3 separate regions of the Homo sapiens genome follow, and all the other regions are linked to region 3. Evidence: fine-mapped expression QTL. Tissue or cell type: whole blood. Region 3 holds a variant in brackets; each other region holds the start of a gene. All regions are shown on one strand. Distances are from middle to middle.

Region 1 (4,588 bases), 55 kb before region 3:
ACCTGGGGAAACGAAAATCATTTTTCATGTGGAGAGAAGGTGGGTTTTAGCACGGTATGTTAAAGAATAAATAAAAACTTACACAGAGAAAAGGGCAAAGTAATTCCAAGCAGAGAGAATGTATATACAGAGGTGTAAAAATATAAAGTATATTATATCTTTAGAGAATAATTTCATTAGGTGAAGAAGTGATAAGATTTAAAATTTAGAAAGGACTTTTTTTTTTATTGGAAATCCTTAATGCTGGCAAGGAATTCAAAATTTTCAAATAACATGTATGCCCAAGAGAACACATCTATAGCTACCAGTTTGAGATCTCTCAATTAGGGATAGAGAAGTTAGGAAGCTATTATTGTAGATGAGATGATAATGATGTAAAAGCTAAGGGATAAACAGGAAGTAGAGTTCCCTTAACTACAGCCACACGGTTTCATATTTAGCGTAGAATTAAATCATAGCTTTTAAAAAGACATGATAGAGCTAGATACTTTTAATAAATGAGCTTGTATTGGCTATTGGCTTTCATGATGCTTCATACCACTGACTGTACTGAACACCACTAGGTGTAAATCATGAACATCAAAATGCCTATACAATACTGGTTGAAAAACTTCAATCTCTCTTATACTGTCATTACCTCAGGCATCTTCAAAGAAGTCAGACCTAATTCAAGGTGACAGGCAGTTTTGAGCCAAGTGACTCAACCGAGAAAAATTATATAAAGGTAAAATGTACTTTGTGTGCTATAAAATAAAGGAGGAGACAGATGAAGTGCGTTAATAACCAAATAATTAGTATAGACCATTTAGATAGTTCATCATAACTGGATCATGCAATAACCAAATACACAACAGGCCAGGAAATAACATTTTCAGAAATGGCCTCCTAACTGGTTTTCCTAATTCTACCCTTGCCCTCCTACACTGTTCCCAGCAGCCAATGTAGTCCTAAAAAAAAGTCAGATCACATCATTCCTCTGATGGAAACCCCTCCAATGGCTCTGCGTTTTACTCAGAGGAAAAGCCAAAGACCTTATCATAGCTTTCAACACCTTTCTGACTTCATCTCCTTCCCACATCCTCTCTCACTACCCTCCAGCCACACTGACCTCCTTGCTGTTCCTTTAACACACCAAACACACTCTTATTTTAGAGTCTTTGCCATGATCCTAACAATCTGAATTATAAGTAAAACATTTTATAAACTAAATATTTCTCTTTTTTATTCTGTAGCAAGGCAACATGTTGACATAGCCCAAGCATTCTAACAGCATTCTAACCATCAGCAAGTGATGAAATAAATAATGAAAGACACGTATGTAAAATCATGATCCAGAAGTGCTGCAGATCGCCAGATAAGTATAAATGAGAATATTTGTAATAAATGTGTTAGACCCCAATCCAGTTAATATTAAAAAAAGGCATCTCAAACATCTCCCTTTAAAAATCAAGTACTATATACACAAAAACAACTCTACATGCTCCCCAAGATCAAGCAGCAGTTAAGGGGTGACATCTCCATACATTTATTCACTGACTGATTCAATATTTGAGTACTTCTGCAGTTCAGCTGTGAAAAAAATACGACCCCTGCCCATAATAATTGCTGGACGTTCGATGTAAAGTATTATCGACTCAAAAAAAAAGAAAATATCTGGGATTCATGCTCAGGGACCCGTGTGGCGCGGTCTAAAGAATTAGGCAGCCACCATGCCAAGTCCCAAGAGATGAATCAAATCAAGTTGGCTTATTACCCCATTCCCTTCTCTGCCTAAACGCCATTCCTTCACTCCAATAGAATAGCCCTAATGTTGTTGCAGAGATACGTGTGTAGAACAAAACTCCAGCTCTGAAAGCTCAAAACCCAGAGCTTCTTCCAACCCCTTCTCTCCGACGCTTCCAAGAGACGCTCCAAGAACTCAGAAAAAAAAAAAAACTCGTCAACGTTTCGCTAGATCACAGCCTTGGGTTGTCCACAAAAACCACTCAAAAAAGCTTGAGACTTCACACAAAGGAACCTAAACCTTGAAACCGCGAGCTATAACATCCCAAACTGGTCCACAGACAATCAAGAGACAAAATATAGCAATACAGTATACCTCGGATATCCACCGCCGCCATAATTCCGAGAGCGTTTACAGGTTCTCTTTCCGGCGCAAAGTAAACGTAAGCCTAGGCCGCCGGAAGCAGCGGGTTGAAGAGAGTGCGCATGGGTGAGGAGGGACGTAGAGCGGAAGAGGGGGCGGGGCGGGCAGGAGAGAGGCAGGGGGTGGAGGTGCGGGTGGGAGGGGAGGAGACGCGAGGGGGCGGAAAGCGGGAGAGGCGCGGGAGGCGGGAAACGTGGGGTGGGGTGGGGTGGGGTGGGGTAGGGGAATGGGAGGGGACGGGACGCAGAAAGATTGGTGCAGGGGAGCAGGGAAAGACTAGAAGAGGGATGGGCCAAAGAAGGAGAACGGGAGGGCGGATTACTGGGAAAAAAATTAGAAGACTTAGAGGACAGAAAGACCGAGTGGAGTCCCGCCCCACGCCCACCACTGATGGAAGAATTCTGCCTTGATCGTCTGTGATCGTCAAGAAAACAAATTCTGATGCTGTAGAGTTGTGCTTGGGAGTGTCTCTTAATTTTAAAAGCTCCCCGGGTGTATCCACTGAGCTATCAGATTTAGGAACGATGGTCATTTATATTTTTCTCCCTGCCTCAGGTATTGGGATGGGACAGGACTTAAGAATTTGGGAGTCATTGGCTTTTATGTGACTAAATCCATTAAAAATCTAAACCAATTAAAGAAGCCTCTGAGAAAAATTTCACAACACAGGAAATGCTTCTGAAGTGAAATATTAATAAGATTAAGAGAAAGGGAATACCCCTGGGTCCCAGAGTAATGAGCAAATGTCTGCATTCCAAGTAGTCTGGAGTAGGTAGCAAGGCTCCAAAGAGGGAATGATTCTGTGTACGGGGAAGCTACAGAAAGCCTCAGATTCTCAAGCTTCAGTGTGGCTCTGTAAAAGCAAAACGATACAGAAATATGCAAACAACACACAGATACTAGGAAGAGGATGCCAAAATCTGAAGGAGGGATGAGGGCGGGTGCCTACATCTTCTCCAAAACTTAGGTACTGTGAAGACTCCCCAAGAATTTAACCACAACCCAGGAGCAAGAGGGGAAGACCAGAAATTTAATTGGGATTTTCAACCTCATAGACAAGGAATTAAAAATTTGTTAACTCCGTAGAATAAAAGTACGTTGCCTGTACATTTCAGTTTGGGAATTTTCTGCCTGAGATGGTATGTATAAAATAGGTGTCCCAACAGAAGTATGTGCATGCACAGAGTAAAGTTTTGAGAGAGAATTTTTCAGGAGGGCCTGGTTGGGAGCCTAGTGGGAGGACATTGCAAAAAGGAAGAGTATCGTGTCCAATAAAAAGTGTGATCCATAAAGCTTTTTGTTTTGTTTTTCTAGTTTTTTGTTTCCTTGTGTTTTGATTAGGCTAGAAGGAGATTAGGAAGAATAGTGACAGAATGCAGATCTGTAGATAATAAAACATATGGTATGCATGGTAAATAAGACCTGGAAGCTCAACCTTTATTTTGTAGGCAATGGGAGAAATGTGATCAAGCTTCCATTTTAGAAAGATAACTTGAGGAAGACAGGGCAAGGTGGCTCACGCCTGTAATCCCAGCACTTTGGGAGGCCAAGATGGGAGGATTGCTTGAGCCCAGGAGCTGGAGACCAGCCTGGTCAAGATAGCGAGATCCCATCTCTATTTCTTTTATATTAATTGTTTCAGTTAATAAAGAAATATAAATTAAAAAGTGTGGTAACAAAAACAAGAGAAGACAAGATAGGGAGGAAGCCACTTTGGGTAGGACAGTCAGGACAGGCCTCTCTGAGGAAGTGATACCTGAGATGAGACCTGGAAGATGAAAGCAAATCACTCATGTGAAGAGCTGGGGCACAAGCATATCAGACAGAGGGGACCATGGACCCTACAGTGGGAAAGGGGTTGGTCTGAGAACCACAGAAAGGCCAGTGTAAGCCGGGTTGTATGAGTGAAGGATGAATGATGGGAAAAGAGACTGGGAATGAAGGCAGGGGCCAGATGATAGAGAGCCTGGTCAATAATTTATTTTTTATTCAAAGAACATAGGAAGCTATTAAAAGATTTGAATGAGTAGAATGCCACAAAGGTTCTGACTGGAAATTTGTTTATGGATGTCAAAAGTATTTGTTGTGCTTATTGAGCCACTTACTATGGACGAGGCACTGTGCTAAGCACTTTGACGAACTATCTAGTTGTTCCCTCAAAACAATTTTATGAGGCAGAAGCTATTACTCCCATTTTTAAATGAGGAGACGGACTGAGGCAGATGAGCTAGCTTTTCACCAAACTTATTATCTACTTGGGTATACAGCTAAGCTATATTTTCCACCACCCTTGCACCTGGATGGAGCTACATAGCCAGTTCTCATCAAGGGACTGTGAATGGAAGTGATAAGTGTTACCTCCAGGCCAAGACAGTGAAAAACACTGGTTCCATCTTCACTTTCTCTCTCTGTATTCACCAGCTAGATGCCAGAGAAACCTAA
Region 2 (4,588 bases), 150 kb after region 3:
AACAATACCTTTTTAACAGATAAGAGATTATGGAAACTCTCAAATACAAAATAGTGTAAACTGCACTAAAGAGATATTTACATGTTTTTTTCTGAAATAAACTAGTATGATTAAGGGATTGTGATGGCAATTTAACTCCCTTGAAAAAAAAAGAAGATTTCATTATAGGGTATGAAATATGGGGCTCCTGGAAAATTGACGGAAACCAGGACACTGGGAGAAAGGCCCTGGGAGGGACCCCTGAGCATGGTCCCCCTGAGATTTGACCAGTTCCAAAGATAGGCAAGGATCTAGAATGAGAAGAAAGAAGAAAATGTATTTCCCAAACAGCCTCACTGTCAAAGGACTGGGATTCAGCCACTGTACCTTGCAATCCTGATCTCCCATGGGGGAACGACATACTTTTTCCTCTCTAATCATCACTTGTCTCACCCCCACTCTCAACACACACATCCCTCTTAGCACATTAATCAGTGAGACTCCTAAAGGTACAACTTCTGAGATATAAGAAATAGGATCCAAGAAATCAACCCGACATTTTACAGGCAACTGAGCCTTGAGTTCACACATGCTTCCGGGACTTGTGAGCCAGCTCAGCCCTGCGGAGACACCCCCATCTCTTTGAAAGCAAATGCCTTTAGGAGGCGGGGACAGGCGTTAGAAGAGGTGGTGGCAAGGTCCCTGATTTGGGGACTAAGGCTAGGACACTAACCACCATCTTGCCATAAACACTTCCAGATTGGGAATGGGGGGCGGCGGGGGGGTGGGTAAGAGAAGGGACTGGGAAACTGGCAAATTCTCAGACTGGGACTTCAGGATGTGGAAATCGGGAGCCACTGCTGAGGTGGCCAACTGAAGGTGAAGAAGCCCAAGCGTCTGAAGTGCGGGCAGGGCCTGAGGCGTCTCGAGCTTATCCAGCAAGCAAAGCCCGGGCAGCCTAAGCGCGCGCCACCCACACCCAGGTCAATCGTCCTCCCCACCCCCCGCCCTCATCCCAGCCCTCGCGCAGTGCTCCCCCCTTCCCCGACCGCCCCCCAGGCCTCCGTCATTCCCCCTCCCCGCCCGGCCCCGCCTTCGCCTTACACTGAATGGGCGGGTAGCAACTGGGGTCCTCGCCGCCGGGCTGGCAGCGGCTGGAGAAGGCGCTGCGCGGGGTCACGTAGTTGCTGGGGAAGATGCCCACCCGCTGGTTCAGCTGCCCGGTCCACCAGCCCTCGTCGCCGGACACCTGCGAGTCCTTGGACAGCACCTCCACCACGTCGCCCAGCCGCAGGGTCAGCTCGTCCTCGCCCGCCGCCTCGTACTCGAACACGGCCGTCCAGTAGGGCAGCGGCGCGTCGCAGCCCAGCTCCCCGGGGCCCACCGCCGCCGCCGCCTCCTCCTCCTCCTCCTCCTCCTCCTCGGCCCCGGCCCCTGCTCCATCCTCCCCCGGCGGGGCGGCAGCGGCGGCGCTCGCTAGGCAGCCGAGAAGCGCTCTGGAGGGCTCCATGGAGCGGCCGATCCATAGGGTGCGGGGCCGCCGCCGCCCGCAGGAGCCGCCGCCGCCTATTGTTCATGCGCCTCCGCAGAGCTGGGAGGACCCCCCCCCAACGACGGCGGCCGCAGGTAGGGCCCGGGCTGGCAGGGCTGGGAGAGCCGGCTCGCCGGCGCTGTTACCGCGGTACGAGAAGAGCGCCGAGCGCGAGCTCTTCGCGCAGCCTAGGGGCGCAGCGGGCCGAGTCCCCGCCTGCCCGCTCGCCCCCCCGGGGGCGGCCTCGTCACCTCTGCCGCCGGTACCTGCTCGCGCAGCCGGTGCCCGCCGCTGCCAGCCGGCCGCCGCTCTCCTCTCCGCGCCGTGCCGTGCCCCGCCCCCCGCACCGCCAGCTCGCCGGGACCACCTGACGCGGGCCTGGCTCCGCCCCAGCCCTGCGGACCCCAGGGGGCTCCGCCCCACGCCCGCCCCGCCCCGCGCCCGCTGCCTTCCCATTGGCTGCGGCCGCCCAGTCCCCGGTTCCTCCGCCGTGGTTGGGGCAGCCTAGCTGGCCGTCTCGCAGGTCCCTCTCACCCCCTGCGCCGCCGTCGCACCGTGCCCTCCCCCATTGCGGGCTCTGTCATTCTCAAACCCAGGTCGACCCACTCTTCCCGCCCACTGGCCCGCCGCAGCTCCCTCCATTGGCTCGCGGCACCTGTCCGTTTCCTGGGAGAGTTCAGCACCTCCCGGCAGGAAGAGGCTCCGGCCTCATTGGGTGCGTGAGAAGGGAAGGGTGGATCCTAAAAGGTAATACTGAGCCTTCATTCAAACTAAAAGGCTGGAAGGGAGGCAGCTGCCTTTGTTTGCCATGGATGGGTAGGGGCTGCACTGAGCAGCACCGGTGTTCTTCATCCGGCTGCACCCCCAACAGAGCTCTTTCTTCCCCAGATCCCTTTTACAGTTGGATTCTCCCTCTTGGATCTGGCTCTGCCTTAGTCCGACCTAGAGGGATCAGCTTCGCCCACGCCCACTCTCACCCGGAACCTTTCATCTCTTATTGAAGCCTTTTAGGCCCATTGGGATGTTCATTAGAACTCTGAAAACTACAGTTCTCCCCTTTATGAGGACTGCACCACAGCTCGCCCTCTCCTGGGTTCCGGTAAGAAGAGATTCCAATACCACTCTTTTTTCAGAATTCAGAAAGGCAAGAGACCACCTTACTGAGCTTCAAACTGGGGCTGGGAACGCTGCCATGAATTGGGCTTGGTCTGTCTGAAGGGAGCCACCTTTTCGACAATCCTTAGACTTCTTTTGCCTGTTGGAATTACACCTTGGATCGTGGCGAAGTCTATAGAGGTCAGATTAAGAAGAACCAAAGCAGAATAAACGTAGAACCCGATGCTGAGTTCACGAGTGAGGACGACCTCTTCCTATATGCTTTGCTATACCCTGCGTTTTGAACATTAAGGACGAGATAGGAGGCCCATAATGTTTCTTCTTGCTTTAATCCTGTCGTGGCAACGTTGACTTCCAGTAAGAAAGGTTCTCTGATCTTTTTTTCTCTTTTCTTTTCTTTTCTTTTCTTTTCCTTTCTTTTCTTTTCTTTTCTTCCAGGGTCTCAGTTTGTTGTCCAGGCCAGAGTGCAGTGGCGCAATCTCGGCTCACTGCAGCCTCAACATCCTAGGCTCAAGCCATCCTCCCACCTCACCCTCCCGAGTAGCTGGAAGTACAGGCTCGTCTTGAACTCTGGGCTGAAGTCATCCACCTGCCTCGGCCTCCCAAAGTGCTAGGATTACAGGCCTTAGCCACCTCACCTAGTCCTCTGAAATTTCTAAATAAGCCAGTGCTGAAGGATCTAGCCCAACTTCTACCAAACTTTGTTACCTTTTCCCCTTCAGTGGTAGGAATAGACATGATTTATTTAGCAAGGGTGAGTGCTTTTGTTGAATTTTAGTTTGGGGTTTATTATTACACAAACTAAAGACAGCGGGGCAATTTGGAAAGATAACTAGGCAGCTGCATGACTTCAGGCAGGTGTCCTAACACTGTACTCTTAAAGTGAGGGGAGTGAACTGGAAGATATCCTGTGTCCTCATAGTTTGAACATTCTGTGGTTCGCTCATCAATATGACTACACTGTATAGTCATAGCACACATTTGAGGTCTTGAAGAAGAGAGATGAGGCTTGTTCTAAAAAGCATCCAGAGTAGGTCTTGAAAAAGGATTTCTGTTTAAGTAAAGACCTAAAACAATGCTCAGATTCCTATTATACATAGGATCCATGAACTGGAAAAGATATGGATGAGTCTGAGTAAATTATCTAGGTTTTGTTTTAGACAAAACCATTCCACTGTCAAGCAGCAGAGAGCAAGGGAGTGGGGATGGAGGTATATTGTGTTTTTTTAAAGGCCATAAGAAAATAATTGTCTTGATAAAATTTTAACTTAGGACTGGGTATGGTGGCTCGTGCCTGAAATCTCAGCAGTTTGGGAGGCTGAGGCAGGAGGATCACTTGAGCCCAGGAAGGAGACCAGCCTGAGCAACATGGCGAGACCCCTATCTCTACAAAAAATGTTAAAATTTGCCAGGCATGGTGGTGCAAGCCTGTAGTCCCAGCTGTTTGAGAGGCTGAGGCAGGAAGATTGCTTGAACCTAGGAGGTCAAGGCTGTAGTGAACAGTGTTTGCTATACCACATTCCAATCTGGTGACAAAGCAAGACCCTGTCTCAAAAAAAAGAATTTTTTTTAACTTGAGGGAAAAAAAGTTTTACAAACTGTAGACACACAGCAAAACAGAAACAGGAAAAAAAGTACTAAAAAGAGAAAAATGTCAGTAGTGGGTCTCTAAGTAGTCGGATTATGAGTAATTGGGTAAGTTTATTGTCATTTTGCTTCTCCATAATTTCGTATGTTCTACTATTTAGTTTTGTGGATTCCTTCCCACTCCCTGGGAAGAGGGGAAGAGAGGAGAAAAATCATTGATTCTTCTCAATAGGAAAACTAATTCCCTGTGCAACTTAAACCTTTAATACCATAGCATGTGTTTAGAATCTCATAAAGAATCATTCATCAAACATTTCAACAAGTCATTCAGTTAATATTTGTTGAATGGGTAAGTGCTAGGAATTCAAATGAGGG
Region 3 (5,249 bases):
TATACAGAGAGGGGGGTATCCCATGAGTGCCCATGAGGATGGAAGGAAGATAGAACACACAGGAAAAGATAGGAAGCAACCTAGACCTCAGAAAACCTGAGGGGTAATGTGGCATAATGGAAACAGGTCTTTACATAGTGAAATCTGAATCTGAATCCTAGCTTCCCTACTTCTTCCTCCATTAACCTTGGACAGGACCCAACCACTGTGGCTTCTGTTTCCATGACAGCATGTGAGTAATAATAATGTACCACATAGGATTGTTATGGTGATTAAATTAATGATACATGCACACATGCCTAGCACAGTGCCTGGCTCATAACAGATGCTTAACAGATGCTAGTTAATATTTGAATCTAACTCCTACTCCAGTATGCATGAAGACAGAGGAAAATATAGGGAAAGAGAGAGGGAAAGAATGCAGCAAAGAAGGCTATGGGGAAACACGGGAAGCAAGTGAGCAAAAAGGTGAGGACAAAACAGGGGCCAGGGGAAAGAGTGCCATCTCCCTAAGTGTCTGCAAGACAGGAGAGGTGAGAAGGTATAAGCCAACAGCCTTTGGTGTGGACATTGTCTACCACCATGCCTGGTGTATTCCTGGTCAAGGGAGGCTGAGTGAACATATAACTCATCAGTTAGTTGAAAGACCACAGAGTTCCACCATGACCAAGAGCCCATGGGTCAGGGGTCTATGCCCCTTCCAGCTTCTCAGGATTTGGGTCAGTCTAAGAAACACTTAGAAACTGTGGGTTCTAGGCACACATCATCTCCAGCCTGAGATTCTCCAAATGAATAAGGCTCAGTTAGACAGTGCCTGTTCCCTGCCACTTTTCACACTTTGCCCCAGGATTCCCCCTGACCCTGTCTTTGAAATGAAAAGCAGGGAAAGAACTTCAGGCACTCTCACAAGTCAGACCAGTTGAGAATCTGACAGCGGAAAATAAGGATTTGCCTGCTGGGAAGAGAAGATACATGCTGTGATCATTTGAGTCCCCAGGGGAGCTTAACAAGAAAGAAGGCTTTCTGGTGGGAAGAGAAACAGAGGATGGCAGAGGCTCATAGAAGGAGACATCCGACAGAGAAGCCATGGGGCTGGCAGCCTCGGGACTGCCCCACCCACCCTCTTGTGCATCAGGCAGATGCCAGCTTACTGAGCTTCCTTATTGGGGTAGGATGAAGAAAGTCCTTGGCTTAATCAGGCATCTTGGGAGTGAGAGCACTAGCAGGTGTGTCCCTTGGATCCGCTCACAGCTGCTCCTCCACCAAAACACCCAGGGTCCCTCATGACCCTAAGCATCCCCAGAACAGTGCCCCATGAAGAGGCAGTGCTTTCTGCCTAGGAAACCCTTCTGAATCCCTTTTCACACCTCTCCTCCCAAGTTCCTCTTCCCCTCATCCCCCAGCTCTCTCTGAAGGGATGATAATGGTTAGTGGTGACTTTTTAAAAATAGTTTCTGCCCGGGAGTGGTGGCTTATGCCTGTAATCCCAGCAGTTTGGGAGGCCAAAGTGGGTGAACCACCTGAGGTCAGGAGTTTGAGACCAGCCTGGCCAACATGGTGAAACCCTGTCTCTACTAAAAATACAAAAATTAGCCGGGCGTGGCGGTATATGCTTGTAGTCCCAGCTACTCAGGAGGCTGAGGCAGAAGAGTTGCTTGAACCTGGGGGCGGAGGTTGCAGTGAGCCGAGATTGCACTACTGCACTCCAGCCTGGGCAACAGTAAGGCTCTGTCTCAAAAAAAAAAAAAAAAAAAAAAAAAAAAAAAAAAATTCTAATTACAAAAGTAAAGCATCATAGTTGCAGAAGTTATTGATACTAAAAGAAAAACCTCAGACAAATTAAATTTAGCAGAGTTTAATTGAGCAAAGAATGACTCGTGAATCGGGCAGCCTCCCAAGCCCGAATAGGCTCAGAGAGACTTCAGTGCAGCCACATGGTGGAAGAAGATTTACGAAACAGAAAAAGGAAAGCCACCGTACAAAAAAATGGAAGCGAGGTACAGAAACAGCTGATACTTAACAGCTCTGCATTTGCCTTATTTGAACTCAGTTTGAACACTTGGTTGCCTTTGATTGGCTAAAACTCAGTTGATTGGCATAAGAGTAGGTTGCAGACTGTTTACACATCCAGCTAGTTTTCAGTTTACTATGGTTCCTTATGTACAAAGAAACCTTTAGGCCAAACTTAGACTATGTAAGGAGGCAGCTTTAGGCTAAATTTAATTTAGCATTGAAAATATAAGAAATTACAAAGAAGCAGCCCAGGCTCAGTGGCTCCCGCCTGTAATCCCAGCACTTTGGGAGGCCGAGGTGGGTGGATCACCTGAGGTTGGGTGTTTGAGAACAGCCTGGCCAACATGGGGAAACCCTGTCTCTACTAAAAATACAAAAATTAGCCAGGCGCAGTGGCGTGCACCTGTAGTCCTAGCTACTCGGGAGGCTGAGGCAGGAGACTCGCCTGAACCTGGGAGGCGGAGGTTGCAGTGAGCCGAGATCGCGCCACTGCTCTCCAAGCGTCGCTTGGGCGACAGAGCGAGACTCCATCTCAAGAAACAAAAAAAAAAAAACAAAGAAGAAGGTAAAACTCTGTCATTTACCACCCCAAGATGACAACAGTTAACCGTTTTGGTTTATTTCCTTGCCGTTTTTCTTCCGTGTGGGTGTATGATCATTTATATGTAAAACAAACATCAGCCAACCCCCTTCAGGTCTACCTTTCCCAGTGTATTTAGGAAACAAGGGGTTGTTCTCACGTGGGCTGGGGCCACTGCAGGGACCTCCTGTCTTTTCTCCCCTCCCCTCCCACAGGATGCTGCTCACTCTGTTTGCATGACAACCAAGGGGCCACTCGACTTCCT[G/A]TTGCTGCTACTTCCTTTTCACATTCCACAGCACCACTACACCCAGATGTATAATTTCACTAGACTTTACTGAAGGTTATGAGATGCAGAAGGAGTTTACATCTCAAAAATTGAATAGTAGAAATTCTTCCTCCTAAAACTCATTTGGCCATCAGACCACCAGGAATTTCAAATGGACCACTCACATTTTTTGGCAGGTTCCAGCTCCCCGCCATGCTGCTTGGACTCTTTCTCCCCGCCAGCTCCTCTCAGCTTCTTAGGTTTCCCCACTCTCAGATTCCCTTCATTTCATATACAAAGCAGTCTGGGCATCTTTTCATCTACGTGTGTGCCTGCTACTGACCTCTAAGCTTCACCTTCCCCACCTGAAGCAGTTGATGAAGCCAGTCTCCTCCAAAAAGATAATTTATTCCTTTAAACTCTGCTATAGATATTACAAATTCTTCACCCATACAGAAGGAGCAGAACTTTTAAAAGAAAAAATAATTCTTCACCCTGATACACACACACACACACACACACACACACACACACACATTTATTTTTCACAACATTCAGGTTTATACTGTACAAACTTTAGCAACCTTCATGTTTTTCCACCAGTGTTTTCATTGAAAATATTTTTCACCGTTCCACAGCATGATTGTAATGGCTGTGTAATGTTCCATTGCACCAATGTCCCATTATTTATTTAACTAATCTACTGATGGATACTTAGGTTATTTCCAGCATTCTGTGATTACAGCACAATGCTGCCAAAGACGTGCTCTTTCCGCTATACATGTGCCTGTTAATTATCCTATCCCCAAACACATCTGAGGACATGAGGGAAAGATGGTGGGAGAGGCAATAGGAACAGGGAACATGTCTCTGGGGCAGGAGAGGGGATTGAAATGGGAGACGTTCTTTAATGTCCAAAAAGAGAACAGGATAGAACTCTGGCTTCTAAGGTCTTCCCATTCTGGCTTAGAGTTTCTGCCAATGAACGTGACGTGTGTACTTGGCCAGAGCTGAGAAGGAAAAGATAATATGGGGCGATGGGTTTCTTCTGAATATTTCTGGGAATACACTCATCTTCACATTCCAAATGGCCAATCTGGCCACTCCAAAGTCCCGCTTCCAGACTGAGGAAGGGGTGTTAATGAAGATTCCAGCAAACAACAGCTCTGTCCTACCAACTTTTCACTACTGCCTTCTCCCTCTCTGTCTACTACACCAAAGTCAAGGGTGAGAGTAAGGGGCCATAGGTGGGATAACTTCTAAGTGTTCTGCCATAGCACCCAGATTGGTGCCAAAGGGCTGAGCTGACCTTAAGCTTTGGCATTACAACTCCCTTGGGCAGATTCCTATATGCTTTAAAGGACTGTCAATGTAAGCTTTCAGCTTACAGGATTTTATACTGACTTTCCATGCAGTTCTTTTACCTGCCACTTTGACAGCTATTTTTGCCAACAGAGGGTAATTAAAAAGAATATAAACTCCTTGAAGATATCAATATCTCTTGAATGCTTTCCATATTCCTTATGAAGCCCTGGGCACAGGCCACGATGAGTGAATCCTTATTGACTAAGTTTACTAAGAGTGCCTACCCGAAATTGTGTAGTGATGATGCGTGGGAAGCAGCAGCTCTGGTAGTGATCCCAAAGGTGGGGCATCCATGTGAAGAATCAGAGGGATTCAAGGGAGCAGCTTGGTTATGATGAAAAGGAGAGATCTCCAAAGACAGTGTTGCTAAAACAAAGAAAACAAAAGACACACTTGACAGTGTTTGTTTGAATCTAGTGCAAGCACATACTAGAATGGAAAAGTGGAAGGTCAGAAATTAATGTGAATGGAATCAAAGGAGATTTAGCCCCCTAGATAAAGCCAAACAGCTCCTGGCAGTAGAAATAGCAGCAGCAGTAGTGGGAGACTCTCTGGGCAGCAGGCAGGAGAAATAGGTATTGGAGTGAACAAAGAAACGGCTACTTGTGGGCCAGACACGGTGGCTCACACCTGTAATCCCAGTGCTTTGGGAGGCCGAGGCGGGCAGATCACCTGAGGTCAGGAGTTCAAGACCAGCCTGGGTAACATGGTGAAACCCCATCTCTACTAAAAATACAAAAATTAGCCAGACCTGGTGGCAGGCACCTGTAATCCCAGCTACTTGGGAGGCTGAGGCAGGAGAATTGCTTGAACCCAGGAGGCAGAGGTTGCAGTGAGCTGAGATAGTGCCACTGCACTCCAGCTTGGGCGACAGAGCGAGACTCCATCTCAAACAAACAAACAAACAAACAAAGAAACAGCCACTTGGAGGGTGCTAACTCTCTGAGCCAGAGTTCTCAGTCCTCAGACTTGATAAAGACCTTCAGAGATCAGCCAGTCCGGGTTTCCACCATTACCACCAGCTCT

The links. PIP is the estimated chance that this variant, and not a neighbour inherited with it, causes the effect.
Region 1: it holds the start of MED6, and the variant in region 3 is fine-mapped to the expression of MED6 in whole blood (TOPMed, PIP above 0.99).
Region 2: MAP3K9 starts here. The variant in region 3 is fine-mapped to the expression of MAP3K9 in whole blood (TOPMed, PIP above 0.99).

The regions. Positions count from the first base shown.
Region 1 is chr14:70,598,518-70,603,105 of GRCh38, forward strand. MED6 (mediator complex subunit 6) reads right to left here and starts at 2,138. Exons shown (of 8, transcript NM_005466.4): 1 at 2,099-2,138. The coding sequence starts at 2,120. RefSeq lists an enhancer at 1,640-2,839.
Region 2 is chr14:70,807,683-70,812,270 of GRCh38, forward strand. MAP3K9 (mitogen-activated protein kinase kinase kinase 9) reads right to left here and starts at 1,831. Exons shown (of 12, transcript NM_001284230.2): 1 at 1,084-1,831. The coding sequence starts at 1,489. MAP3K9-DT (MAP3K9 divergent transcript) reads left to right here and starts at 1,102. Exons shown (of 2, transcript NR_184164.1): 1 at 1,102-1,605. RefSeq lists an enhancer at 393-452 and a silencer at 1,393-2,032.
Region 3 is chr14:70,652,853-70,658,101 of GRCh38, forward strand. All of the region lies in intron 1 of TTC9 (tetratricopeptide repeat domain 9), which reads left to right. Among named protein-coding and RNA genes, the nearest start is that of TTC9, 14 kb to the left of the region's middle. RefSeq lists enhancers at 669-1,255, 1,829-1,888 and a silencer at 1,629-1,768. The variant G/A (reference allele first, on the strand shown) is at 2,859.